Homo sapiens: one gene and its partners. The protein of the gene in region 4 purifies or fractionates together with the protein of the main gene of each other region. This does not show direct contact. Each region holds a gene or a part of one and is shown on either strand. Other genes may lie near its edges.

Evidence for each region.
Region 1: the proteins of CCDC91 (region 4) and STARD7 purify together in Homo sapiens (affinity purification with mass spectrometry; 2 studies listed by BioGRID and IntAct, with this or other methods). This does not show direct contact.
Region 2: the proteins of CCDC91 (region 4) and C10orf88 purify together in Homo sapiens (affinity purification with mass spectrometry; 2 studies listed by BioGRID and IntAct, with this or other methods). This does not show direct contact.
Region 3: the proteins of CCDC91 (region 4) and CCDC102A purify together in Homo sapiens (affinity purification with mass spectrometry; 2 studies listed by BioGRID and IntAct, with this or other methods). This does not show direct contact.

Annotation. Positions count from the first base shown.
Region 1 is NC_000002.12:96,198,620-96,206,141, reverse strand, and holds part of STARD7 (stAR-related lipid transfer protein 7, mitochondrial isoform 1 precursor), read left to right. Parts: intron 1-7,522. UniProt on the Homo sapiens protein: May play a protective role in mucosal tissues by preventing exaggerated allergic responses.
Region 2 is NC_000010.11:122,936,854-122,944,375, forward strand, and holds part of C10orf88 (ATPase PAAT), read right to left. Parts: intron 1,307-7,522; coding exon 852-1,306; intron 1-851. UniProt on the Homo sapiens protein: ATPase that regulates mitochondrial ABC transporters ABCB7, ABCB8/MITOSUR and ABCB10. Regulates mitochondrial ferric concentration and heme biosynthesis and plays a role in the maintenance of mitochondrial homeostasis and cell survival.
Region 3 is NC_000016.10:57,533,309-57,540,714, forward strand, and holds the start of CCDC102A (coiled-coil domain-containing protein 102A), read right to left. Parts: upstream 3,264-7,406; 5' UTR 3,192-3,263; intron 1-3,191.
Region 4 is NC_000012.12:28,193,025-28,200,546, reverse strand, and holds part of CCDC91 (coiled-coil domain-containing protein 91), read right to left. Parts: intron 1,605-7,522; exon of another isoform or gene 1,491-1,604; intron 1-1,490. UniProt on the Homo sapiens protein: Involved in the regulation of membrane traffic through the trans-Golgi network (TGN). Functions in close cooperation with the GGAs in the sorting of hydrolases to lysosomes.

The DNA of each region.
Region 1 (7,522 bases), on a different chromosome or scaffold from region 4:
AGAGAGATCAGACCAGTTCATGACTGAGCCTCTGGTCAGACTGTCCCTGAAACCTGGAGGCAATTGAAATACTCTTGGTTCTACTCCAACTCCTCAAGAGGGACTGCTCTGAGTTAACCAGCTTTGGAATTTCAGGAGTTCAGATGAACTCCAGAACACTTTCAAGCTGCACTTTGACCCTTCTTAGGGTTGTTATAGTAAAGGCCCTCATTTAACATTTCATTGTTTGGTTCATGCTTGAATTTGGTTTTTCATGTAATTAAAATTTGATCATGTTGTTCATCTTGAGGATTTTTTTTCTTTTTAAAATATTTGTTAATGTGATAGGAAGGCAAATATGCTATTCAACAACTACATCTTGGTTGCACAGTGGTTCCTTAGGTCTTTGTTTTGATAGCTTGTCATGTTTATATTTTATTAAAATATTCTGGGTACAGATTAACTTATTTGCTTTGTGTTTAAGTATTCTATTTGCTTGAAAGTAGGCACTGCTGAGGTTGTCATAGCTAGCTTAGAACATCTTGGATTTCGTTTGTTCTAGTGAGATGATTTTTGGGTAGCTTCCATAATGGAGCACAGTTGGAGTGTGTCTCAAGTGCATTTCTTTCATTGTTAATGGAAAAAGAGCATGATTGTCACATGGCCCCTAAATCACAGCCTTTGGCTCATCTGTGCTGATTCTGTACCAACTTGTCCTGGCACAAACTAATTCTAACATAGCTGTTTTGGTTAAGCGGGTGGAATGTGCAGGGTGTCTTTTTGAATGTGTGCCTTAAAGTGGCATGTGTTTTCCTTATGTTATTTGAGTCCTATTCAGAATGACAAAGCATAACTTGTCTTCTCGTCTTTTGTGCTTAAGAACATCTTACCAAATAGCGTCTTATTAATCAAGCAACAGCAAGAAAATTTGAGAAGTGATTTTGACTGGCTGCTGTGGCCAGATGTAGAAATCAGATCTTTTAATACTTGCTCTAGTACCCAGTTGTCTTAAATTAAACAACGAAAATATCTTGGGATTGCTGTTTTTGGTGCTAGCTGGCATTCTGTGATTCCAGGGCAAATCTAATGGAAAAATACAGTAGTCATGTTTTTGATTGCTTTGGAACAGTTAAAAAGAAAAGTTACAGGAACAAAGAGAGGAAGGATGTTAAGAAATGAAAGGCTAGGGGAAAATGTTCCATTAACCTCCTCATAGTTTTTTAAAAGTTACAGTTCATTGCTCCAGAAATTTGAGTAAATAAGTGCCATTAAAGTTGCATAAAGAAAATTGGCCATTTTCTCTTTTCTGTCTTTCAGGGCATTCGGGATATGTTAAACTTCAGTGTGTTATTGACTAGATAAATGATCCGCATAAAGTCCTTTTGCCTTAAAGGAACTTTTTTTTTTTTTTTTGGCCATTGTCACTTCAGGGTATCTTACTGGTAAACCCTTAAACCCCTTGTTAGATCTTCAGAGCTACATAAAATTAGATCTCAATTTTTTGAGGTTGTCTTCATTATTTTACCATTAACTAGTTGCCCTAGAACTGCAATGAGCTAATTGATGTCCTGTCCTGTCCTGTCCTCCCCTTCCCTCCCGCCCCCTTCCGGGACAGAGTCTCACCCTGTCGCCCAGGCTGGAGTGCATTGGCATGATCTCGGCTCACTGCAACCTCCGCCTCCCAGGTTCAAGCGATTCTCCTGCCTCAGCCTCCACTGAGTAGCTGGATTACAGGTGCTTGCCACCACACCCGGCTAATTTTTTGTATCCTTAGTAGAGATGGGGTTTCACCATGTTGGACAGGCTGGTCTCCAGCTCTTGACCTCGTGATCCGCCTGTCTCGGCCTCCCAAAGAGTTGGGATTACAGGCATGAGACATCACGCCCAGACTCTTTTTTTTCTTAAGACATAATCTCACTCTGTCGCCCAGGCTGGAGTGCAGTGGTGTGATCTCACCTCACCGCAGCCTCCGCCTCCCTGGTTCCAGCTATTCTCGTGCCTCAGCCTTGCCAGTGGCTGGGTCTACAGCGGGGGTGCCACCACGCCTGTTTAATTTTTGTATTTTTAGTGGAGACGGGGATTCACCATGTTGGCCAGGCTGGTCTCGAACTCCTGCTCCTGACCTCAAACAGTCCTCACGCCTTGGCCTTCCAAAGTGCTGAGAGCCAGGCGCCTGGCTCTATGTCTTTTTTTGGGGGGTATGGAGTCTTGTTCTGTTGCCTAGGCTGGAGTGCAGCGGTGTGATCTGGGCTTACTGAAGCATCCACCTCCTGGTTTCAAGCAGTTCTCCTGCCTCAGCCTCTCAAGTAGCTGGGACTACAGGCATGCCCCACCACGCCCACCTAATTTTGTGTGTTTATTTTTAGAAGAGAAGGTTTCACTGTGTTGGCCAGGCTGATCTCCAACTCCTGATCTCAAGTGATCCGCCTGCCTTGGCCTCCCAAAGTGCTGGGATTACAGGCATAAGCCACTGCGCCTGACTCCTATGTCTTTTATTTCTAGGTGTGTCCCGTATCAGTAGAACCTGACTTTGACAATAACTTGGAATTTGAAGAGGAGGAGAATTATGTGAAGTGAGGCTGTTGTCTGACTGAAATTCCTAATTGTAGGGATGGTTTCATTTAAGTAATTTTGGAGCCTTACACCAAGCTCCATGCTGAGGGCAGGACCCCTAGATGAACCAAATGTTGTTTCACTTACTTTGTTTTCATGGTTTGTTTGCTTTCAGTTTCTATAGCTTTCGGTCCAGCCTTTTTCAGATATTGAAATGATTTTCGTTTTGGAGAAAGAAAGGCATGGTCTCTCTTTTCTTGATCCTTTTTCTAATCTGCTGATTTTACTATTTTGGGAATAATCTCTTTTGTCCTTCTGTCCTCTCTTAAGTCTCTTAAGATGTGAAGGTTTAGCCACCCATCCCATCCAAACAAGATTGGGCACAGCAGCCTAAAGAGATGTGTCATGAGAGGTTTTCCTTTTCTCCACATATATGTTAGTGAATGACTTTGTGCTCCTGTATGTTAATTGGGTCTTGTCATGTTAGCATTTAGAAGTTCAGACCCTTCAGGGATTCCTAAACCTTGGGAAAAAATAACTTGATCATTTACATTTTCGTGAAGCAGTCTTGCTCTATCATTCATACTGTGTCTCCACAAGACATTTCCGTCCCTTTTCATAATTTTAGTCAAAGCCACCTAGTAACCTTTAATTATATAGGAGAGCTTGATTAAGCAGTGGGTCAGATGCTCTGAACCACCTTGATTCTTAGAAGGTCATGAAAAAATGTTGCCTATAGTTAATAATTTTCTTAAAACTTTATTAACTATGTAATTATTTTATGAGCCTCTGATGTTTTAGTACGACATTCCACCAGTGGAAACATGCTCCCCTTTATTATGTGGCAAGAATGATAATTCGGGCCAGGTGTTGTGGCATGTGCCTGTACTTGGGAGGCTGGAGGATCACTTGAGCCCAGGAATTTGAGGCCAGCTTGGGCAATGAAGAAAAAAATTTTTTTTAAAGAATGACACTCAAGAGTTGTGCTTAGTTATTGTTGAAGGATGCTTTATAGACCTCAAAAATGCTGTAATCGATGCCCTATGGTGCCTGATTGTTCTCTGAGCAAATCTAGCTATGGTTTTGCTTTTGCTCTTCTTCTGCAACATCTAAATGCCTATCCTAAGGTTCCTTCTCTGTTTCTCTATGGTTTTGCAGCTGGTCAGGGTTCTTGGTTGTAACAAAGAAACTGGTCTTGGTTAATTTAAGCCAAAAAGGAATTAATCAAAACGGTATTAGGTCACTCAGTATTGACAAGGCCAGGGTACAGGTTGACCAAGACCTGCAGCAGGAATAATCTACTTAGAGCAGTGTTGCTGGCATTCTTTCCCCCAGATTGGTTGTACTCCTGGACTCCCAGCTCCCTCAAGATCCTGTGCCTTTGTGTTATCTTCAAGATGCAAAGCCCCTTCTAGAAGTCTCTAACCTCACTTAAATTAGGAGCTGTGCTTTAACTGCTTGTGGGCGGGAGGGGGGCTGCATTCACCTATTTGGGTTCTTTCCAAATAGAAAGGGATTTCAGGCAGTCAAAATGACAAATATTCCCCTATATAAATATTTTCATCCAAGTCCAAAGCTTAAAATTCAGCAAATTCAATTTTAGAACTAATAGGACTTCAAGAAATAACGTCCTCACTTTAAAGGTAAAATAAAATAAGATCACACAGCTGGTCAGCTGTAGAGCCAGGACTAGAACACAAATCTTTAGACTTACCATTATTTTGAATTGCTCTAAACTTTTAATCTTGGATTGACACTATACCTTTGAATTTTTGGCTTTTGCAGCAATATATTAATGCAATATATATATATTTTTGAGACAGTTTCACTCTCACCCAGGCTGGAGTGCAGTGGCACGATCTCAACTCACTGCAACCTCCATCTCCTGGGTTCAACAGATTCTTGTGCCTCAGCCTGCTGAGTAGCTGGGATTACAGGCGCAGGCCACCATGCCTGGCTAATTTTTTTTTGTAGTGCTGGGATTACAGGTGTGAGCCGTTGCACCTGGCCAATTTTTTTTTTTTTTTAAGAGTCTTACTCTGTTGCCAGGCTGGAGTGCAGTGGCATGATTTTGGCTCGCTACAGTCCCGACCTCCAGGGCTCAGGTGATTCTCCCACCTCTGCCTCCTCAGTAGCTGGGACTACAGCTGCATGCCACTACGCCCAGCTATTTGTTGTGTAATTTTTTTTTTTTTTTTTTAGAGGTGGAGTTTTGCATGTTGCCCAGGCTGGTCTTGAAGTCCTGGGCTCAAGTGATCTGCTCACCTTAGCCTCCCAAAATGCTGAGGATTATAGGCGTGAACCACTGCCCCAGGCCTTAATGCAATCTTTTAATAAAAATTTGGATTACTGAGGCCTATTTTCATTTTATTATTTCTTGATTTACTAAATTTATTCATGTAATGTATGTAATGTTTACCAGGACATGTAATGTTTACCAGGACATGCTAGGAGCTGGAACTACAAATATGAAAAAGACTGATTCTGGGCTATTAAGGAATTTATAGTTTAGTAAGGAAAGCAGATATAAAGATAGATTAATTATAGTGTAATATGCCTGTGTAAAGGAATAAAAATCAGTGTGTATGGTTAACTCTGCCTAGCAGTTACCTTTGTGGTTTTTTGAAGCTTGAAGGGTGAAAAGGCATTTCAGACAGTGTAGCAGTAATTTGGGTCTTCTTCAGTCTTGAATTGCAATAGAGTGTATAAGACAGCCAGCCAGCAATTTTTGTTTCTTATCTGTAACCTTTCTTTAAATGTTGCAGGGGGTAGGGTGAGGTGGAGGGCACGGAGAAGCTGGGTATGGTAGCACACGCCTATTGTGCCAGCTACTTGGGAGGCTGAAGTGAAAGGATCTCTTAAGCCCAGGAATTTGAGGCCAGTTTCGGCGACATAGTGAGACTTTGTCTCAAAAAAGAAGAGGTTATGGGAAAAATACAAGCCAAGTTTTAAAAAATTATTATTATAAAATGTTTCAGATATATAAAAAAGGTTTAAATAATAACACGAGCGTTGCAAGTACAGCTATGTTAAGAAATAAGATATTACAAGTATACTTAGGGTTCCTCTGTACCTTTTTCCAGTTGTATTCTTATTTTTCCCCAAGATGTCACCATTATCCCAATTTGTTGTATATAATTCCCTATGTTTTTATACATATGTATATACCCCTGAATGATACATAGTGATACATAGTACAATATATGGTGGTGTTTTTCATGTTTTAAAACTTTTTGCAGCCGGTGAGTCCCGCCTGGAATCCCAGCACTTTGGGAGGCCCAGGCTAGTGGATCACTTGAGGCCAGGAGTTCAACACCAGCCTGGGCAACATGGTGCAACCCCATCTCTACTAAAAATACAGAAAACAAATTAGCTGCATGTGGTGGTGCTTGTCTGTAGTCCCAGCTACTTGGGAAGCTGAAGTGGGAGAATCACCTGAGCTTGGGGAGTTAAGGCTGTAGTGAGCTGTGATTATGCCACTGCACTCTAGCCTGGGCTCAGAACAAACAAAAAAAAACCACACAACTTTTCGCAGTCCTGAACAAAATACTAACAAACTGAACTCAGCAATATATGAAATGGATTATATGCCATGAAAAGTAGGATTTATTTAAGGAACGGCAAGGTCGGTTCTTCATACAAAAATCAATTTATTACACCATATTAATAGAAAAAAGGACAAAAACTGCGTGATCATCTGAATAAACACAAAAAGTATTTGACAAATTCCAGCCTCCTTTTGTGATTAAAAAAGAAAACACTCAGCAGACTGGGAATAGAAGGAAATTTCTTGCAGCTGATAAAAGGCATCTACAAAAAACATAGCTAACAGTGTAGTTAATGGCAAAAGACTTAGTGCTTTTCTCCTAAGATCAGGAACAAGATGAGGATTCTGCTCTCACCATTTCTGTTCAACATTGTACTGGAGGTCATAACCAATGAAATCAGGCAACATAAGGAAATGAAAGTCATTTAGATTGGAAAGAAGAAATAAAACTATCTCTATTTGCAGCTGACATGATCTTATATTTAGAAAATAGTAAGGAATCTACAGAAAGCAATTAGAGCTGATAAATGAGTTCATCAAGTTTGCAGGATACAAGATCAATACACGGAAGTCATGTTTATGTACACTAACAATGAATCTGAAAATAAAATTAACAATTTCATTTACAGTAGCATAAAAGGAATAAATACATACGAATAAATTAACAAGTGTACAACTAAAACTGTAACACTAAAAACAACAAAACATCATTGGAAGAAATTTAAAAAGACATAAGTGAAAGACATCCCGTGTTCATGGATTAGATTAGAACACTTAATATTGCTAAGATGGCAATACCACTTAAAGTGATCTACAAATTCAGTGTAGTCTTTATCAAAATCCTAGGCAGTTCTGCAGAAATTGGCAAGCCACTTCTGATAGTCATATGGAAATGAAAGGAACTCAGAATAGCAAAAACAGTCTTGAAAAAAGAGAACAAAGTTTGGAGGACTCACTGTTCCCAATTTCAAAACTTATTACAAAGCTACAGTAATGACATTGTGGTACTGGCATAAGGATAGACATCTAGATTGTTAGAATAAAATTGAGAGTCTAGAAATAAACCTTTACATTTTTGGTCAGTTTTCAACAAGGATGCCAGGATAGTTCACTGGGGAAGGAATAGGCTTTTCGACAAATGACACTGGGTCACCTGGAGAAGCAGATGCAAAAGAATGAGTTTAGACTCCTACCTCATTATCATACACAAACATTAACTTGAAATGGGGTAAAGACCTAATGTAAGCTAAAATTCTAAAACTCTTAGAAGAAAATATAGGCATAAGTTCTTATGACCTTGGATTAGGCAGTGGTTTCTTGGCTATAACACCAAAAACAAGCAATCAAAGAAAAAATAAACATCAAAATTAAAAACTTTTATGCATGAAAGGATACTATCAAGACTAGTATAAGCACATGAAAAGGTTAGGGAAATACCAGTCA
Region 2 (7,522 bases), on a different chromosome or scaffold from region 4:
ATCCTCTTGAATTTGGTCAGATTTGCTTTGTGACTCAAGATATAATCTATCTTTGCAAATCTTCCATAGATGCTTGAAAAAAGTGTATATTCTGCTATTGTTGGTAGAGTTCTCTATAAATGTCAACTCAATCCTGTTGGTTGGTGGTGGCGTTTAGTTACAAAATCATCCAACTACCTCATTTTCAAATAAAATCTCTTAGGCTAAAGAATACTAAACAGTGTGGCAACATGTTTAAGCCAAAACCACACCTAGAGTCCTGAATTCTAGTCTAGAACACCATTTTGACATACTATATCTACTTAAGCAATTAGGAACATAATACTTAGCTATCTCTTAATCAAATATGTACTGCCAAAATAAGGGATTAAGAGACTGGGGATAATAGCTTGTAAACTACAAGTGATTATTATCCTAATATAGTTTTTTAATAATCAGGAATTTGCCTAGACCAAACATAATCTTCAAGGAAAATGTCACAATGACATGCTTAACATACCCAGGCACAAAATAGTACAAATATATAAAAACAACATAAAGATTATAATTCCCACAGCTCCTTTCCATTCATGCAAATCACTTTCTATTCCAACTGTGAACTAATACTTGTGACCCTTCCACAAAATGCCTGGGAAGTGTGCAAAACCTCCAGTTATAGGGACTTCTTTCAAAGTAATCCATTCTACTCTGCAGTTATCCCCTTTAAGTGTATTAATGGTAAAATGTAAAAGTTGCTAAAATTTTCTCTGGAAACAAATTTTAGGCAGTACTCATTGAGACAAATCTGTTTCCTTTCATCTGATTCTTCCACCTACCAAATCGAAACTCGTATGTCTTAAAATAATACTTACCCAACACCAAGAATGCGTTCACCATGCTTGGTGATGTTTTCCTGACACTCGGTCTTATTTCCCACATGGAGATGATTAACTTGACTACATAAATTCTGGAGAAAAGGCAGCAACTCGGAGTTGGGTATATTTGAGTTGTCACTTACTTTCTTTGGTAAGAAAGAGGCCATTGCATTTTTAAGATCATTTTCAAGAAAGGAATGGTTTTGAGGCATAACTTTACACTCATCAAGCTTGGTAGAATTCTCTCCACCAGGCAGTTGTGTACTTTTATCAATGTAAGTTTGTAAGTTTTCAGTCACGTTCCCAGATGTCAATCCAGTTCTAAAAGGAAAAGGTGTGGAGGACGACTTGTTTAAGGTTCCTAAGGTAGATGAGGATTGTAGTCCAATCATATGCTTGTATCCAGAATTGCCCAACACCGACTGAAGCTGCTCTCCAATGGGAATACAATTCTAAACAAGGTAAACAAGTAAATGTTAATATTAATAACACTGACAGCTAACTTTTGGAGTAATTACTATGAGTCAGGCACTGTGCATTGTTTCATCCAATCCTCAAAACATCCTTATAAAGTAGGCCACTAATACTATCCCAATATTAAGCTGAGGAGACCAAGGCTAAAGGTACCTAGCCAAGGTAACCAGCCAGTAAGTGGCAGAACTGGAACATGAACGCAGGTCACTTAACTCCACAGTCATGACTTTCAATCATTTCATTGTAGTTTTTCCCAAAAGAAATTAAATAAATACTAGCATGAATAGTCAAACTGCACTGACACTAATGTTTCCACTACAAATGTCTCTTTATGATAATAAAATGTACTACTCTCAACTGAGTCACAAGAACCGGTAAGTTTCTTAAAATTCAATTATATCATTCCCAACTGTCAAAATACGGTAAGTTACTCACTTTCATCTAGTAATATCTTTTGCAATGAATTTTTCCTGGAAACTACACAGATAGGTATGCTATTTAAAGTTAGATGCTCTATGGGTACATTTGTGACATTTTCAATGACTGAAATTAGCTACTTCTGGCTGTGTTTGCTCTAAGAATTTCCAGGATAATGAGAGTTGTTTTGCAGCCTCAATTCAACTGGTTATGCAGTATTATTTCCTGAGAAGATTCTGGCTTACCTTGAAGGGATGATTACAGTATCTCCCTTTTATGCTCTTTAATTTTTCCATTGGATAAAAGAAAATATCTCTAGCCTAAGTCTTAAGGCATATGGCTCCACTCTAAATTCAAAACATAAAAGTCTACTATAGATTCTTATCAGGGGTTATCATCCCACACTTATTGCTGTTCAACAGCTGGTGAAACAGACTGAAAAAGCAATATGTAAATTAGCTGAAGAAACTCAGTTCATATACTTATAGATATTCTAAAAAGTTATTACTAGACTAAGCCGGAACAACATTAATTTATTCAACAAATATTTACCAGGAATCTACTCTGTGCTAGTATTGTTTCAAGCACTGGAAATACAGCAGCGAACAAAATAAATTAAAATCCCTGACCTCACAGAGCCTATATGACAGGGGAGCAAGGAGACACAAACTACAAAAGAAAAGAAGGAAAAAGGGGAAAGAAAAGAAAAAGAGAAAGTAAGGGAAAGAGAAAAGAAGTGAAGAAGGAAGAAGAGAAAAAAGTCAAGAAAAGAAAAGAAAGGAAAAAATGTATCATGAAATGGAGATGGTGATAAATACTTTAGGGAAAAATAAAGTGAGAAAGGAGAATAATAAGGGCCAGGGAAGCTGGGGGAAGATTTGTAATGTCATGTCCCCATCTAACTTTTTACCAAACTGCACTTTGGAAAAGTGCTCTTTATAGAGAAATGTTAACCTACTGTAAGTTTATCTTGTTTTATAAAATGCAAGTTTTGAATAAACTTGAATATTTAAATATTCCTGGAATAAGATGAATTATGTAAAATTATATTTATAAAATGTTAACATTGGACAACTCCCCATAAGCTCAAAGAAAGTTACTCAGTCATAACAGGAAAGCCCATTTATTTCTCTATGACATTTCAAAACAAAATGTACAGTGGAAAACTACATTAAGAGTAATAATATTTACACTACAGTCAATGTCAAAAGTATGGGTGAACATTAAGTAGGCAGAACATTTAAACAGAAAAATCTAAATGTAAAGGTATTTGCTATGTAAATTTTTCCTTTCTGACATATAATATTCTGTTTATAAGAATTCACTGATTATGAAAATTAGTCATTGGTTAAGAATGTAAAATAGTATAGCAGTGATGAAAAACAGTATGGAGGCTCCTCAAAAAATTAAAAATAGAACTACCATATGATCTAACAATCCCACTTCTGGGCATATATCCAAAATAACTGAAACTGGGATCTCAAAAAGATTATCTGCACTCCCATGTTCACTGCAGCAGTACTCACAACCGCCAAGATACAGAAACAACCTAAATGTCCATTGACTGATGTATTGATAAAGAAAATGAAATGAAATATCATTGAATGAATATCATACAATGAAATACCATTCAGCCTTTGAGAAGAAGGATATTTTGTCATGTGACAATATGATCAATCTGGAAGACATGCTAAGTGAAATAAGCCAGGCACAGAAGAATAAATAATGGATGATTCCATTAACATGACATATCTAAAATAGTTAAACTCAGAAACAGAGAGTAGAATGGTGGTTGCTAGGAGATGGGGGGAAGGAGAAATGAATTGCTATTCAATAGGTATAAAGTTACAGCTTTACAAGATGAATCTGTTTTAGAGATCTTCTGTACAACAGTGTCTATAGTTAACAACACCATATTGTACATTTAAAAATTTGTTAAGAGGGTAGATCTCATGTTAAGTATTCTTACCACAATTTAAAAAAGGTCACATTTTCTGAGATGAGAGCTCTTTAGATGATCTTTTCTCTTTGGAATAAATATCAAGAAATTCAGATATGTCTACATGCCACTATAGGAAATGAAGAAATCTCAGGTGCCTGGTAGCTAATCCTTTATTTCTCTTTATGTGAGCCTCCACTGTTAACATGCTATTAAAAATTTTGAAGAAACTTAAATATCCATGAATAGGTAACTGCATAATATTCATAAAACCATAGAAAGCTGTATTTATTGATATCCTTTCAAGTGAAAAATGTTCCTGAGCAACATATGCAGTATGAAAGCATTTAGAGAGAACTGTGTCCATATACTTACAAAGATATGTGTATGTGTATATGTATAACTACATATATTCTGTATACACACAATAGAGATTTCTGAAAAAATAATAGTTTATCTTTAAATATATTGTAGGATTTAGGAAAGTATGAATTTCCTATACCTTTTTGCTTTTTAATTTTTTTGTATCACCTTTAATAATCAGAAAGAAATTAAATAATAAAGTCATTTTTATTTTGAAGGAGAAAAAAGCAAGAGTATAACTCCTAAATAACTGAATATGTTTTCTTTGAGAAAATGGGTCATATCCTTTCATTCAGATAACATTAAATGACAATCATATGCTACACCCTTTGATATAGAATTCCTATTCAAGAATTCTAAATTGCTAAAGCAAAAGCAAATCAAAGCCAGCAAACTGAACTTCAAATAGAAGGAAATAAAAAATAATCTTAATACTTATTGAGAAATCACAAAGGTTTGGATTGCATTTCAGACTCACAAAACTTGGCGTGTTGAACTTTAATCAAACTTTCGAGAAAACAAGTAATTCCAAGGCACAGGTAAGCCAGAGAGAAGCCAAAACTTCTGAGGTCCTTCCTTTCCCCCAAGAGAAGTCCTGCCCAAACAACATGTGTGATCACACCACTTACACGGAAGGAGTTGATTTGGTCATGAAACATTCCCATTTTATGTGCAGAAAGTTACACAGCTTATATGACATTCTCTATGCCTTAGAATGTATAGATGCCTAGTTTGTCATCAATAAGCAATCCTAGAGAACCAGGTACATCCTGTAAGAATCACTCCATAAATAAGGACTTTTCTTACTAGGAAGGAAGTCTTCCATTAGCATGTTTAAAAGGACACAGAACTGTTTATCACCTTCTTTCTTCCCCAGGGTGTCCCAGAAATGTCCCTGCATTAGTGGTGAGAAGAAAGTAAGTTATTGTACAGTGTACATAGCAGTAACCCATGAGTGTTGGCTGAGGGTGGGGTGGCATGGGGGAGAGCCTTCTGTGTTGCTACATGCATAAAAAAACTCTACAAGGATACACGCCAAACTGTTAGCTGTGTATCCTCTGGGGTATAGAATGACAGCTGGAAAACATTTTTAATTTTTACCTAACACTTCTGTATTGGTTAAAATTCATGGCAAAGAAAAATTATTTATAAATAAAACTATAAAAATTTAAAGACACAGCCAAAATAAAAATATATCTAGTTTCATTTTTTCCTAGTGTCAAGATTTTAAAATAATCAGACAGTAAACTAATTAATATCCTCTAATCGTTACCAAAATTTGTTCACAAACAATTGCTTCCTTTTTAAAATCTTCCATTAAAAGAGTTATTATCATGTAATCCAGCACATAAACAGAACCAAAGACAAAAACCACATGATTATCTCAATAGATGCAGAAAAGGCCTTTGACAAAATTCAACAACCCTTCATGCTAAAAACTCTCAATAAATTAGGTATTGATAGGACATATCTCAAAATAATAAGAGCTATCTATGACAAACCCACAGCCAATATCATACTGAATGGACAAAAACTGGAAGCATTCCCTTTGAAAACTGGCACAAGATAGGGATGCCCTCTCTCACCACTCCTATTCAACATAGTGTTGGAAGTTCTGGCCAGGGCAATTAGGCAGGAGAAGGAAATAAAGGGTATTCAATTAGGAAAAGAGGAAGTCAAATTGTCCCTGTTTGCAGATGACATGATTGTATATCTAGAAAACCCCATCGTCTCAGCCCAAAATCTCCTTAAGCTGATAAGCAACTTCAGCAAAGTCTCAGGATACAAAATCAATGTACAAAAATCACAAGCATTCTTATACACTAACAACAGACAAACAGAGAGCCAAATCATGAGTGAACTCCCATTCACAATTGCTTCAAAGAGAATAAAATACCTAGGAATCCAGCTTACAAGGGATGTGAAGGACCTCTTCAAGGAGAACTACAAACCACTGCTCAAGGAAATAAAAGAGGATACAAACAAATGGAAGAACATTCCATGCTCATGGGTAGGAAGAATCAATATCGTGAAAATGGCCATACTGCCCAAGGTAATTTACAGATTCAATGCCATCCCCATCAAGCTACCAATGACTTTCTTCACAGAATTGGAAAAACTATTTTAAAGTTCATATGGAACCAAAAAAGAGCCCGCATCGCCAAGTCAATCCTAAGCCAAAAGAACAAAGCTGGAGGCATCACACTGCCTGACTTCAAACTATACTACAAGGCTACAGTAACCAAAACAGCATGGTACTGGTACCAAAACAGAGATATAGATCAATGGAACAGAACAGAGCCCTCAGAAATAACGCCGCATATCTACAACTATCTGATCTTTGACAAACCTGAGAAAAACAAGCAATGGGGAAAGGATTCCCTATTTAATAAATGGTGCTGGGAAAACTGGCTAGCCATATGTAGAAAGCTGAAACTGGATCCCTTCCTTACACCTTATACAAAAATCAACTCAAGATGGATTAAAGACTTAAACGTTAGACCTAAAACCATAAAAACCCTAGAAGAAAACCTAGGCATTACCATTCAGGACATAGGCATGGGCAAGGACTTCATGTCTAAAACACCAAAAGCAATGGCAACAAAAGCCAAAATTGACAAATGGGATCTAATTAAACTAAACAGCTTCTGCACAGCAAAAGAAACTACCATCAGAGTGAACAGGCAACCTACAGAATGGGAGAAAATTTTTGCAACCTACTCATCTGACAAAGGGCTAATATCCAGAATCTGCAATGAACTCAAACAAATTTACAAGAAAAAAACAAACAACCCCATCAAAAAGTAGGCAAAGGACATGAACAGACACTTCTCAAAAGAAGACATTTATGCAGCCAAAAAACACATGAAAAAATGCTCACCATCACTGGCCATCAGAGAAACGCAAATCAAAACCACAATGAGATACCATTTCACACCAGTTAGAATGGCAATCATTAAAAAGTCAGGAAACAGCAGGTGCTGGAGAGAATGTGGAGAAATAGGAACACTTTTACACTGTTGGTGGGACTGTAAACTAGTTCAACCATTGTGGAAGTCAGTGTGGCGATTCCTCAGGGATCTAGAACTAGAAATACCATTTGACCCAGCCATCCCATTACTGGGTATATACCCAAAGGATTATAAATCATGCTGCTCTAAAGACACATGCACACATATATTTATTGTGGCATTATTCACAATAGCAAAGACTTGGAACCAACCCAAATGTCCAACAATGATAGACTGGATTAAGAAAATGTGGCACATATACACCATGGAATACTATGCAGCCATAAAAAATGGTGAGTTCATGTCCTTTGTAGGGACATGGATGAAATTGGAAACCATCATTCTCAGTAAACTCTCACAAGAACAAAAAACCAAACACCGCATATTCTCACTCATAGGTGGGAATTGAACAATGAGAACACATGGACACAGGAAGGGGAACATCACACTCTGGGGACTGTTGT
Region 3 (7,406 bases), on a different chromosome or scaffold from region 4:
GAGTTTTCTGGAGAAGCCCACCCCGCCCCCAGCACACCAGGAATCCTGCACTCCCACATAGACCCAAGGGCAGCCAGACCCTGCCTTGCAACGCCTCCCCCTACCCTGCCCCACTCATACAGCACAGCCCTGGGGACACACACTCACATACAGCCCCAGTAATGCACACATTCACACACACACCCCCAGGGACCCGCACTCACACACAGCCCCAGTAATGCACACACTCACACACACACCCCCAGGGACCTGCACTCACACACAGCCCCAGTAACGCGCACACTCACACATGGCCCCAGGGACCCGCACTCACACACAGCCCCAGTAACACTCACACTCACACATGGCCCGAGGGACCTGCACTCACACACAGCCCCAGTAACGTGCACACACACACATACAGCCCCGGTAATGCACAGACTCACACGCAGCCCCAGTAACGTGCACACTCACACACAGCCCTGGTAACGCACACACTCACTGAGGGGCAGCAGCAGCGCAGAGCATGGCTTACAGTCGTGGAGATGCCCCAGCTGCCCTGCCCGCCCCTTCCACCAGGCTCAATGCCCTCTTGCCATGGGGTGTCTATGTGCGTGGGGCGTGGCCTCCTGTTCCCTTGGCATACTGCCCCACCAAGGGGCAGGTCACGGTGGGACCGGCCACCACAGGCCCCGGGGAGCCTTTCCTACCCCACCCTTCGTTGTCCTGCCTCCCAACAGCCAGACAGGTCTATTACTGCTTTAAGTCTCTGGGTTTGTATTCCAAATGCCCATGTCCCAGACTCCAAAACCCCCACCCATCTTCAAGTTCAGCTGCCACCAACTCCAGGAAATGCCTTGATCTCCCCAACCCCACCCCCACCTGGGGACCACAGCCCTACAACCTCCCACAGCCAAGCCTGGCAAGCTGCCATCTCTCTTCTGGCAGTACAGGCTTCCCTCATCCAGATGGGACACTTGTGCCACTTAGAGCTTCCATCAGGGCTCCTGAACCCCAGCCCCACAGCTGTGCTCACTGGTAGCTCACTCCAGGACAGAAACAAGAATATTTTGAGCTGACACTTGCTGCAGGCTAGGCCCTCATCAGCCCTGCCCACAGAAAGTGACCCAGTGGTTCCTGTTGCTTGTGGACTTGTCTGGAATATCTCTCCTTCCTTCATCAGCAAACTCCTACACATCCTTCAAAACCCACCTCCAGTGTCCCCTCCCCTAGGAAGCCTTCTCTAACCTCTCTGCACAGAGTATGCTCCCAAAGCACCAGGCACCTCCGTGTTCTACAGCAAAGGCCTTACTTTGAAGTCCACGAGCGAGGGCATCAGCACAGGGCCCAGCATACAGCAGATGCGTGATGGATGGAAGGTACCCCTAAGAAGGTGGTACCACTCTTAGGGGTACCCTTGTGACCATGCAGAGTTTGGGAAGGTTGAGTCATCCTAAAGATCAGGAGTCAGTCGGTGGCCAGGCTCTGAGACAGGTAGGTATCTGAGCCTGTCTGGCCAGGGTTGGAATAAGAGGTCATCTCACGGCCAAGTCGGCTGTCCCACCTTTTACCTGGGGAAGCCTAATTGACCCACTGGGAACAGCGTTGTGTTTTGTCCTCAGCATGTTTGGATGGGTCTCTCCATATCAGTGAGAGGAATGAGCAATGCCAAGGCCTGGACAGGGGCCAGCTGAAGGGATGGGGAGCCCAGTGCCCCAACCCCTTCCCCGGCTCTGAAACCCTGTAGATCCTCCCAGAGCCTTTCAGGTAGGGCCCTGGGACAAGCCCATGGCCACAGGCCTGGCTGTGGACAGAAAGCAGAGCCCAGTGGGAAACCACAGAGGACAGCCTGATTGAATAAGTGCAGGGCCCAAGGCTGGTCAGCCCACAGACTGCGGGCACCTGTCCCTGTGACCTGCTGCCCAGGATCCAGCTGCAGGACCTCTGGGGGGAGCTGGCTGGCGGGAAAGGAAGGGATGGCGGCTAGGCCTCCAGGCTGGACCTAAGCCCAGGGGTAGGCACCCCTGGCCTATTCCCAGGTAGCCCCATCTTAGACTGAGGAGCCACAGAGACAGCCTGGATCATTGATTTGAACTCCTTTCTTTACATATGGACCAACTGAGGCCCAGAGGGACAGCTACGTGTCTGTGTCCACACCGCGGACCAGCAGCAAGGCCAGAGTAGGGAGCTGGTGATGGGATGCCTCCTCTTCTGGATCTTAGCCACCTGAGGGGCACAATGCCCCCGAGAGCACCTACACGATGGGGTCTGCAGGCACCAGGCCAAGTGGATACGCACAGCTGGAATGGTGGGGTGAACCTTCATGGGGACCCAGCCCCACCCCGACCCCAGCCCCACCCCTCTCGGCAACACCGTGAACTCTTCACTCTTGTACAGCAGACATCCCGCTAGTCCCAGCTCCATCACTGATATGCTGTGTGATATCTGCAAGTCCCTGCCCTCTCTGGGCCTCAGTTTCCTTACCTACAGGATGGGGAGAGGCACTAAAAAGATTCCTGAACGCTCTAACAGGTGGGCAGACCTCCCGAACCCAAACCAATCCAACCCCCACAAGAGCCCTGGGAGAGCGGGGGTGGGAAGGTGGACACCACCCCCACCTAAGGTACTGAAACTGAAGCCCCAGCCCTGCGTCGCCTTAGTCCTCACTTAGTCGACCCCTCCCAAGCCGCTGGCCCTGCGAACCGCCCCGCTCCACCTAGCGACGGGCGGAGGGTGGAGGGGGTTCCCGGCCCGCGCCGCGCGGTCCCGCCCACCCCACCGCATGGCCCCCATTGGCAGTCGCCGCGGCTCTGGGCAGGGCGCCGTGCTCTGATTGGCCAGCGCCGCCCGTCCATCCCGCATTCGCCATGGCGACCACGTTGGGTCCCCCGGGAGAGTCCCAAATTCCGTCCCCGCCCGCCGCCCCCTCCCGTCCGGCCCGGGCCGCGGCATTCCGGAGGCGCCTCCCCTCCCCCATCACCCCGCGGCCCCTCCCCACCGGAGACCTGGGGTTCCGGGGGCTGAGGGAGGCCGGGGAGGCGTCTAGAAAGTTCTGCTCTGAGTTCGGGGGTTGCCGCGGGCGCCCCGACTGTGTCTGCTCCTCCAGCACGCCCCACAACTTAACCCCTTCCTTCCCGCGGAAGGCGCGCGGCCTGGAGCAAGTTCCCGGGCCGCCTTGGCCTGCCGCCCCCCGGCCTGCCGCCCCCGCTCACCTCGGGCCGGGACTTGCGGGCTCCGTACGTCCCAGCCGCTGCGGCGGGGTAGAGCGGGCACCGTGCAGCTGCGACCGCCGCCGGAGGGGCCGAGGGAGGGCCGCGGAGTCTCCTCCTCCCTCCCGGGGGGAGGGGAAGCAGGGGGAGCGGCGGGGCCCCCGAAGCGGTCGCAGGCTGCGGCCCCGCTGTGACCCCGGCCCACCGAGCTGCTGGGGTGGGGGCTCCAGCCTAACTTCGGGGCGAGGGGTGCGGGCCGGGGCGGTGGGCTCTGCTGCAGAGCGGGCCGTACCCCAACGGAGGCCCCACCCCCGTGAGGGGCCGAGAGTTGCGGGGGGGCTCGGCTTTCTTGGTTCAGGTTTCCTCAGCGCCAACTACGTACTAGGCGCCCCCAGCAGAAACGGCCACCGCGGGTCCCAGCTCGGCACGTGGAGCGAGCTTACCAAGTCTTCACTGTTGTTACCTGCATTTTTCCCTGGGCCAGCTCTGCCACCGAGTGGAAGTGGGCCAACAAGTCTGTGCCCATCGGGCCTCAGTTTCTCTTTCTGTACAACAGAAGGGTTGACGAAAGCAACCTTGCGCTTGTTAAGAGGTGGGGGGCGCGGGGAGCACTCGGCCCGGCGGGCGGAGACTTTTCTCTGCATTGCGATGGTGGTTGGCAGGCCCTGGGGAATTACGGTACTTCGCCTTCGGGGACGCCCAGCTGTTTTGGGGCTTTCTCTCTATTGGGGGTAGGATGTTTGTGGTCTTGACTGGAAAGCCGGGACAGGCGTCTGGAGGACTCCCCACTACATCCTGTACCCTGGAAGGCCCCCGAGGTGAATCTATTTAAAAGAAGACCAACAATTCACCAAGATGGTGGGGAAAACCTGGCCTGATTGGGATTTTACCTAGAAAAAGAAGCTAAATATTACGAAGATAAATTAGTTTTACCCCGTGATTAACGGAGTTTAGATTATGATTGCAACCACGCACGCCTTAAAATGAACCAAGAATGAATCAGATGTTAACACTGGAAGTCTTGCTTTTTCTTGTAATAGTTGAGTATGTAGCATCCTTCCCTTCTGAACTGGTTTTTGCAGTAAGAGATTCATTTTTGCAAAAATATTTGAGAGCTTCCTCAAACTCAAGGATCACTCTGAATCCTTTGATAGTCCAGTGCCTTTTTTCGGGTCTGGGTCACTTCCCTTGCAGACGTTCCCTTTCTCTGTGGGCAGCGGCTGTTCCATTTCTCCTGCTTTGCTTCCACCAACTTCATGAAATCCCATACGTTGCAAGACTGGCAGTTTCACTTGTCGATTCATTTGCTTTGTATTTGTTATGCGTGGCTGAATGTTGAAAGCGTCTGTTCACCAGCCAGAGATAGATAGGAGATGTATGTGGGGTTTGAGTACTCAGAGGACAAGGGCATCCACATTTTACAGCTGAGGAAATGAAGGCTCAGAGAGGCTCTTGGCTCAGACTTGCACAAGGTCCTACAGCCAGTAACAGCCTTGGATCAAGAGCCCAGAGGTCTTGCCCAGAGTTTTTGGAGGTGGAAATGGGGCTGGGGAAGGTGGTGGAGACTGAGTTGATGGTGCACCTGAACTCCAGCTATAACCTCATCACTATCAGGCCTTCTCTCCTTAGGAAGAAGCAGTAAATATTGTCCTGAGGATGTCTTTTGCAGGGGCTAGGGTGGGGTGACGTGACCCACCCGATCGTAGAACCAAAGTAGGTGCTGGCCACAGGTTTTGGCAGCTCGCATGATGTTATCTTAGTTACCTAGGGGCTGGGTGTTATTACCACCCTCTCATAATGAGAAAAGTGAAGATCAGAAATGACTGGACTGGGCACGGCGGCTCACACTTGTAATCCCAGTGCTTTGGGAAGCCAAAGCGGGAGGATCGCCTGAGGCCGGGAGTTCAAGACCAGCGTGGGAACATAGGGACACTCTGTCTCTACAAAAAGATAAAAAGTTTAGACAGGTGTGATGGTACGCTCCTGTAGCCCCAGCTAACTTGGGAGGCAGAGGCCAGAGGATCGTCTCGAGTAACTGGCCCGGGGTCACCCTATGAGATGTCAGATCCCAGATCTGACTGTTTCAATTTTACCATAGTTCTCTTTCTAGAACAACACCCCCAGGCGCCTCTCTGAATGCAAGGCTAATCTGGCGTCAACCTCCCCAGTGGTCTCGGCAGGGTTTCTCTCTGGCAGCCTGTCCCACTCAGTTCAGGACAGTCAGGTTTTTGAGGCGTGTGTCAATATTTCCCACACTTCAGCAGTTCTGTTTTCCTGTATTACTGCCACCACTTTTTGCCACTAACACATGCCCTTATTTACCTAGCATTTTTCTTTAAATCATTTCACTTTGTAGGACCTACTTGTATCTTAAAGCCTATTTCATATAGCTAGGTAAATAGAAAATTTGTATAACTTGCCACAAATAGAAAAAGATCATAAAAATAAATAGTATGCAAATAAAACAACGTTAGTAAAGTCTAGCTAGAAACGTTCTCTTTGTTAAGAAGGGGCATCATTTCTACACCCATGTTGATTGTAGCATTATTCACAATAGCTGAAAGGTGGAAGTAACTGAAGTGTCCATCAACAGATGAATGAACAAAATGTAATATGTATTATACACATAGTGGAATGTGATTCAACCTTTAAAAGGAATGAGAGTCTGACACACTACAACACGGAGGAACCTTGAAGACGTCATGCTAAGTGAAATGAGCCAGTCACGCAAGGACAAAGACTGTATGATTCTACTAAGATGAGGCACTTAGAGTGGTCAAATTCAAGAGACAGAAAATAGAACGGTGATTGCTAAGGGCTTGGGGGAGTAGAGAACAGGAAGTTCTGTTTCATGGGTATGGAGTTTCAGTTTGAGAATATGAAAAATGTTTTGGACATGGGATGTGGTGATGTTTGCATGACAGTGTAAAGGTAGATAATGCCATTGCACTGTACCCCTTTTTTTTTTTTTTTTGAGACAGGGTCTCACTCTGTCACCCAGGCTGGAGTGCAATGGTTCGAACACAACTCTCTGCAGCCTCGACCTCCTGGGCTCAAGCGGTCCTCCCACCTCAGCCTCCTGAGTAGGTGGATCTACAGGGGCACGTTACCATGACCAACTAAATTTTTTTTTTTTTTATAGAGGCAGGGTCTGCTATGTTTCCCAGGCTGGTCTCGAACTCCTGGGCTCAAGTAGTCCTACCACTAGGGCTTTGTCCAAAGTGTTGGGATTATAGGTGCGAGCCAACCCACCTGGTCTGAATCTACACTTAAAAATGCTTAAAATGGTAGCTTTTGTTACATATATGTATGTGTGTGTGCGTGTATATATATATATATCTTACCACAATAAAACATTTAAAAGTCAGACGTCCTGTTTTGAAGTCTAATAAAAGATTGAAAAATGGGGAAAAATAAGGGACATAGTCTGTGTTAGAGAGGGGTTAAAACAATTTAGCCCTCGGCGGGGCACAGTGGCTCACACCTGTAATCCCAGCACTTTGGGAGGCAAAGGTGAGCGGATCACTTGACTTGTCAAGAGATCGAGACCATCCTGGCCAACATGGTGAAACCTCATCTCTACTAAAAATACAAAAATTCGCTGGGCGTGGTGGTGTGCACCTGTAGTCCCAGCTACTTGGGAGGCTGAGGCAGGAGAATAGCTTGAACCTGGGAGGCAGAGGTTGCAGTGAGCCGAGATTGCGCCACTGCACTCCAGCCTGGCGACAGAGTGAGGCTCTGTCTCAGACAAACAAACAAACAAACAAAAAACAAAAGAAACAGTTTAGCTCTAAGCTGAGGCTTTTGCTGGACACAACCAAGATTGAAAAAGATGTGTAAATGACTTTTTTTGCATTGTGACTGTTTATCTAAAGTCCTGTCGGGGTCCCACCTACAATCTTCTTGCAGGCTACTCACCAGGGTAAGTAGCCCCCATATAGGGAGACACTTTACTGAGATGGTATGTGGCCTCCTCCCTGCCTGGGGGCCTGAGAGGAGACTGGCAGGCTTCCTACTGCTCAAGCATCCAGAGTGTTTTGTAGAGGAGCAGGAGGCAGAGAAGCCTTCCTGGAGGAGCAGGAGGCAGAGAAGCCTTCCTGGAGGAGGCAGGATCCAGTGGAGCCCTGATGGGTGGAGAGGAGCTGGAGGGCTTCCCAGGTACATGTGTGGGACCACAGCTGGGACCGAGCAGGGAGGTGGGTATTAATATGGCAAGCA
Region 4 (7,522 bases):
TTAAGGGCGGTGCAAGATGTGCTTTGTTAAACAGATGCTTGAAGGCAGCATGCTCGTTAAGAGTCATCACCACTCCCTAATCTCAAGTACCCAGGGACACAAACACTGCGGAAGGCCGCAGGGTCCTCTGCCTAGGAAAACCAGAGACCTTTGTTCACTTGTTTATCTGCTGACCTTCCCTCCACTATTGTCCTATGACCCTGCCAAATCCCCCTCTGCGAGAAACACCCAAGAATAATCAATAAAAATAAATAAATAAATAAATAAAAAGAAACATAGAAAAGCTACCACTCAAAAAAAAAAAAAAATTCACTAGAAGAGTTCAACTGCACATTTGAGCTGGCACAAAAATCAGTGAACTTGAAGATAGGTCAATTGAGATTATCCAGGCTAAGGAACAGAATGAAAAAAGAATGAAGAAAAATAAACAGAGCATCAAAGACCTATAGGAAACCATCAAGCATACCAACATATGCATAATGAGAGAACCAGAAAAAGAGGAGAAAAAGGAAGGAACAGAAAGAATATTTGAAGAAACGATACAAGGAAACTTCTCTAATTTGATGAAAAGCATTAATCTATACATCTAAGAAGCTCAATAAACTCAAAGTAGGATAAAATTCAAGAGATCCACACTGTAACACATCATAACCAAACTTTCGAAACATAAAGAGAGAATACTGAAAGCAACAAGAGAGAAGCAACTCATCAAAAATAGGGAATCGTCAAAAAGATTTCCTATCTGATTTCTCACTAAAAACCACGGAGGCCAGAGGCAGTGGAAAGATACATTCAAATTCCTAAAAGAAAAAGACTGCCAACTAAGAATTCTAATTCTAGCAAAACTATTCTTTGAATATGAAGAAATTATGACTTTCTCAGATAAACAAAACCAAAGAGAATGTATGCTAGCACATCTTATCTATGAGAAATACTAACCTGGGTCTCTCAGGCTGAACTGAAAGGACAAGAGACAGTATACTTGAATCTACATAAAGAAATTAAGAACACTGGTAAAGATAACTACATAGGTAAATATAAAAGAAAATATAAATGTATGTTTGGTTGTGGCTCTTTTCTCCTATGTGATTGAAAAGACAGCTGCATAAATCAAGAATTATAAATCAGTGTTAATGGATACTGTATTAATGTAGAAAGATGTAACTTACACAATAATAGCATGAAGGAAGGGGAGGGAATATATAGGAACAAAATTTGTAAACTTAAACTTAGTTAGTATTAATTAATATAGATTGTTATAAAATAAGGTACTATTTGTAAGTCCCAGGGCAACCACTGAGAACTCAAAAAATATTTAGTAAAAGAAACGTCAAGGCCGGGTGCAGTGGCTCACAACTGTATTCCCAGCACTTGGAAGGCCAAGGTAAGAGGATCACTTGCGGCCAGGAGTTCAAGACCAGCTCAGGCAACAGAGTAAGAACCTGTCTCTACAAAAAATAAAAAAATTATCCAAGCATCGTGGCACACACCTGTAGTCCTAGCTACTAGGGAGGCTCAGGCAGGAGAATCACTTGAGCCAAGGAGCTGGAGGCTGCAGTGAGCTATGATGGCGCCACTACACTTCAGCTTAGGCGATTCTGTCTCTTAAAAAAAAAAAAAGAGAAACATCAAGGAAATTAAAATGGTACATTAGAAAATATATACTTAATACAAAAAAAGGCAGAGAAAGCAATAATGTAGTAATTAAGGAATGAAAAAAATTACTTGATATACAGAAAAAATAGCAAAATGACAGACATAAATACTACCTTAAGCATTAGTAAATACATTAATTGTAAATGGATTCAACACTCCACTCATAAGTCAGAAATTGCTAGACTGAATAAAAAGAGAAATAAATCTCTTCTGCATAACCAACAAGAGATAAAACTTAAAATATCTAAATATCTCATGAAAACTATCACCATTTATTAAACATTCTTCTCATTCAGCAAAATGGAAAATAGGTATTCATTGCCACTTGTCTTCTGATTCAGGGTGGCCCATTTAATGTCATTCAGCTTTCACAGGCTTATTTTGTTTTTCATGCCCAATTTTGGCAAACTAAGCAAAAGGTCTAACCTAATTTTAAGTTGTCTGTATAAAATTCGTAATTAAAATGATACTTAATCTCATCTTTAATCACTATCTTTTACTGATGTCTAAGCATGTAGTTTTTAAATAATATTCATATAAGCCCATCTGTCAGTGAAGCATATTCATAGATTAATGGATCTTGCATAACACTGCAGCACTGTCTTTACTACAATTGCAGAAGTTCTGAATTCTCATAATATAAAATGTAAGCAGCTTTTTAAAATGACTATGTAGACCTACTCTTTAACCACAGGGCTGAATATAATAAAAAACATAGGAGGTGGTAGACACAGAAAAGCCAACCTTCTCTGAATACAAGGAAAAAGTGATTTCATACTTCACAAACTAATTATTTCATTCACATAGTCCATGTTGAAATGTAAATACCAAAATGTACATATCCTTCTAAGGAAAACAAATTGTTTTACCAGAATTATAACAGAGCTCATTTTATAAAGTAATTAACATTATTTTTTATCTCCATTTATTAAACCTATAATTACAAAATTCTTCACATTTCAAAATAAATAAATTGTTGTATCCTCTACTAGTCACAGTAAATATGATCCTAATTATTTAAGTAAAATTGTATGGCATATAGCCAACAATAATCTTTACGCCACTTAGAAAATAAGAATAGACTTAAGAGGATATAAATTTGGACAAACATTTCAGAAGTACTGATAACATCTCATGCTAATTTGCTAATCTGCTTAGTAAATTTATTGTTAGCATTAAAATTAATATATTCAAAATAAACATAATATATACAAAATACCTAAAATAACATAATACTCATAGTATAGCCTACAAATAAAAGCACAGATTCAGGAAGACTTGTGAACAAACTCAAGCTCTACCACTTACTATTAATACAACCTTAGGTAAGTTTGCTCACTTGGAGACAGTTTCCTTTGTCTATGAAATGGAAAAAAATGTTACTACCAAAAAGTAGCAGTTGGAATTCAATAAAACAACATACATAAAGGGTTTTACATGAAGCTAGGCACAAAGATTTCTATAATTCTTATCAAAAGAAGAGCACAGGTGGTATATTACATTATACGTAATTCATCAGTAATTCTGTATAGATCAGTGGAAACAAAATAGTATAGGCAGAAAAGTTATTTAATGATTACAGACTCTAAACCGCTTAAAAAACGGTTTGAACTAGACCGATTTCTAAGGAACTCTGTTTCTGAAATTCAAAGATTCTACCTTAAGGTGATGCCCAAAAAGCCAATGATACTGACCCCAAATTTCTTACAATAAATAGCCTAAAGAACAAATTTCAAGAGCACCAAACAGAGGCAGTGGATATAAGAACCTGAAAAAAAAATGTATATACTTTGAGTGATAATCATATTTTTATAAATTACTTTGAAAAATTATCAGAGTTAAGCACAAATATTTAATGTTAATTTCAACAGGGAAAACTGAAATACAATTTTACTATTTAACAATAAGAAAATCATTAAATGATGGGCATATCCATATAACACAATAACCCATAACCATTACAAATCAAGTTTTCAAAATAATTCATGATGCAAGTACTCCCAATGTGATTCTGAGTGAAAAGGGCAAAATATAAAACAATATTAACAATTTTGTTTTTAAAATATATTTGCAAAAGAAAAGACTGAAAGAAAAGCCACCACAATGTTTGCAGCAGTTACCTCAGATTACTGAAAATAGGGTAACTTTTTTTATAGTCTTCCTTTATTTCCAACTTTCTACTGTAATCAACTATCATGTTCACAATCAAAAAAAGCAATATAACATTCACTTGTGATTAAATTTTAAAGCTCTAAGCAGGAGTTAAAGAGAACTTCCTTGGCTGGGTCAAAATGATATCCACAAAAAACTTACAGCTAACTACTCAATGGTAAAAGACTGTATACCTTCTCTACTAAGATGAAGAGCAATGCAAGGATATCTGTGCTGATCTGACTTGTTCTAGTTAACATTAGCAAAGGTCCTAGCCAGTGCAAAGAGACAAGAAAACAAAATAAAAGGCAAACAAATGAGAAAATGTGAAATAAAGCTGTCTCTACCAGCAGACAGCAGTAGCTACAAAAGCTACTAGAACGAACTCGTGAGTTTAACAAGGTTGTAAAATTCAAAAATTCAAGATCAATATTAAAATACTGATTCACTTACATAAGTAATTGGAAATTTAAAAATTTTTAAAGGTTACTGTTTACAACAGAACCAAACAACATAAAACATTTAGATACAAACATAACAAAATATGCGCAACATTTTTATGCGGAAAGCTTAAAAACAGAGAGAAATCAAAGACCAAATAAACGTAGAAAGGTTGTTTCATTTTGTTTTCTCTCTTGAAAGAGGCTCTCTCTGTTGCAGAGGCTAGAGTGCAGTGGCATGATCACAACTCACTGCAGCCTCTACCTCCCAGGCTCAATCAATCCTCCCACCTCAGCCTTCCAAGTATCAGGGACTACAGGTGCATGGCAACACACCCAGCTAATTTTTCTCATTTTTGTAGAGATGCGGTTTTGCCATGTTGTCCAAGCTGCTCTTGAACTCCTGGGCTCAAGCGATCCTCCCACCTTGACCTCCCAAAGTGCTGGGATTACAAGCATGAGCCATAGCAGTGGGACAGGAAAGGTATTTTATTAATGGATTAGAAAACAACATTTTTAAGATGTCAATTCTCCCCAAATGGATCCATAACTTCAATGCAATCATACTAAAAATTCCACAATGCTTTTATATAGAAATAAAGAGATTCTAAAATGTACATGGAAAGAAAAAGAACTCGAATACTCAAAAATTTTTGGCAAACAACAACAAAGTTGGAGGACTCAGGCTTTTTGACTTCAAGATACACTATAACGCTACCATAATAAGGACTGAGGTTTTAGCCAAACAGACGCACAGAACAATGGAACAAAATAGAGTCCACAAAGCAAACCACACAAACATACTCAACTGATTTTTAACAAGGCAAGCCAAAGAAATTTAATGAAGAAAAGATAGTAATGAGAGGTGAAGCCGGCTGGACTTCCGGGTCAGGTGGGGACTTGGAGAACTTTTCTATCTAGCTAAAGGATTGTAAATGCACCAATCAGAGTCTGTGTCTAGCTAACAGTTTGTAAACGCACCAATCAGCACTCTGTGTCTAGCTAATCGGGTAGGGGACTTGGAGAACTTTTCTGTGTAGCTAAAGGATTGTAAATGCACCAATCAGCGCTCTGTGTCTAGCTAAAGGTTTGTAAATGCACCAATCAACACTCTGGCAAAACGGACCAATCAGCACTCTGTAAAACGGACCAATCAGCACTCTGTAAAATGGACCAATCAGCTCTCTGTAAATGGACCAATCTGCAGGATGTGAGTGGGGCCAAATAAGGGAATAAAAGCAGGCCACCCGAGCCAGCAGCAGCAACCCCTTCGGGTCCCCTTCCATGCTGTGGAAGCTTTGTTCTTTCACTGTTCGCAATAAATCTTGCTGCTGCTCACTCTTTGGGTCCGCACTATCTTTATGAGCTGTAACACTCACAGTGAAGGTATGCAGCTTCACTCCTGAAGCCAGCGAGACCACGAACCCACCAGGAAGAACGAACAACTCCGGACACGCCACCTTTACGAGCTATAACAATGAGCTGCAACACCCACCACAAAGGTCTACAGCTTCACTCCTGAGGCCAGCGAGACCACAAACCCACTGGGAGGAACAAACAACTCAGGACACGCCACCTCTATGAGCTGTAACACTCACCGCAAAGGTCTGCAGCTTCACTCCTGAAGCCAGCAAGGCCACAAACCCACCAGGAGGAATGAACAATTTCGGATGCAGCTTCACTCCTGAAGCCAGCAAGGCCACAAACCCACCAGGAGGAATGAACAATTTCGGATGCGCCACCTTTAAGAGCTGTATCACTCACTGCAAAGGTCTGTGGCTTTGCTCCTGAAGTCGGCAAGACCATGGACCCACCAGAAGGAAGAAACTCCAGACACATCTGAACTTCTGGAGGAACAAACTCCGGACACACCATCTTCAAGAACTGTAACACTCACTGCGAGGGTCCGTGCCTTCATTCTTGAGGTCAGCAAGACCAAGAACCCACTGGAAGGAACCAATTCTGGACACAGTAAGAATAGTCTTTTTCAAGAGATGGTGCTGCAAGACTGGGGCATCCATACACACACACACAGAGAGAGAAAGAGAGAGAGAGAGTCTTGACCCCTACCTCACACTATATGCAAAAATTAACTCGAAATTGGTCACAGACCTAAATCTAAAATTTAAAGCTATAAAAGTTCTGGAAGAAAACATAAGAAAAAAAATCTTTGCAACGTTGGATTAGGCAAAATTTCTCATGATAAAAAAGCACAAATCATAAGAGAAAAAACTGATAAACTGGACTTCACCAAAATTTAAAACTTCTGCTCTTTGAAAGATACTGTTAAGAAAATGAAAGGACAAACTACAGACTCAGACTCGAAGGAAATGCTGTGAACATATATACGATAATGAATTTGTATCCAGACTGTATAAAACACTTGCAAACCAATAACAAACAACCCTATTAAAAACGAACAAACGATTTCAGCAGACACTTAATCAAAGAAGATACACAGATGGCAAATAATAGCACAGGAAAAGACGCTCAATATGTTAGAAGAAAAATTCAAATTAAAACATAAATGGGTTTTCACTAAACGCATATTAGAATAGCTAACATTAAAAATAAAATGACAAGTGCTGACCAGAATGTGGAGCAACTGGAACATCAAACATCACTTGCGGGAATGCAAAATGAAACAGCTACCTTGGAAAACAGTTTGGTAATTTCCTTCTTTTTTTTTTTTTTGTTTTTGAGACGGAGTTTCACTCTGTCACCAGTCTGGAGTGCAGTGGCACGATCTTAGCTCACTGTAACCTCCGACTCCCTGGTTCAAGCAGTTCTCCTGCCTCAGCCTCCTGAGTAGCTGGGATTACAGGCACCCGCAACCACGCCCAGCTAATTTTTGTATTTTTAGTAGAGACGGAGTTTCACCATGTTGACCAGGATGGTCTCAATCTCCTGACCTCGTGAGCTGCCCACCTCGGCCTCCCAAAGTGCTGGGATTACAAGTCTGAGCCACTGCGCCCAGCTGGTAATTTCTTTTAAGGTTAAACATGCACTTGCACACGGCCCAAGAATTCCATTCCTAGATGTGTAACCAAAAGAAATGAAAACATATGTCTACACAAAGACTTGCACCTTAATGTACAAAGAACAGCACATGAATGTTTACAGTACCTTCATTCCTAAATGCCAAAAATTGTTCATCAAATGGCGAATAAACATACTATGATATATTCACACAATGAAATACTACTCAGCTGTAAAAAACAACCAAGCATCAACAAACATGCATCAACATGGATGAATCAAAGCATTAAGTGAAA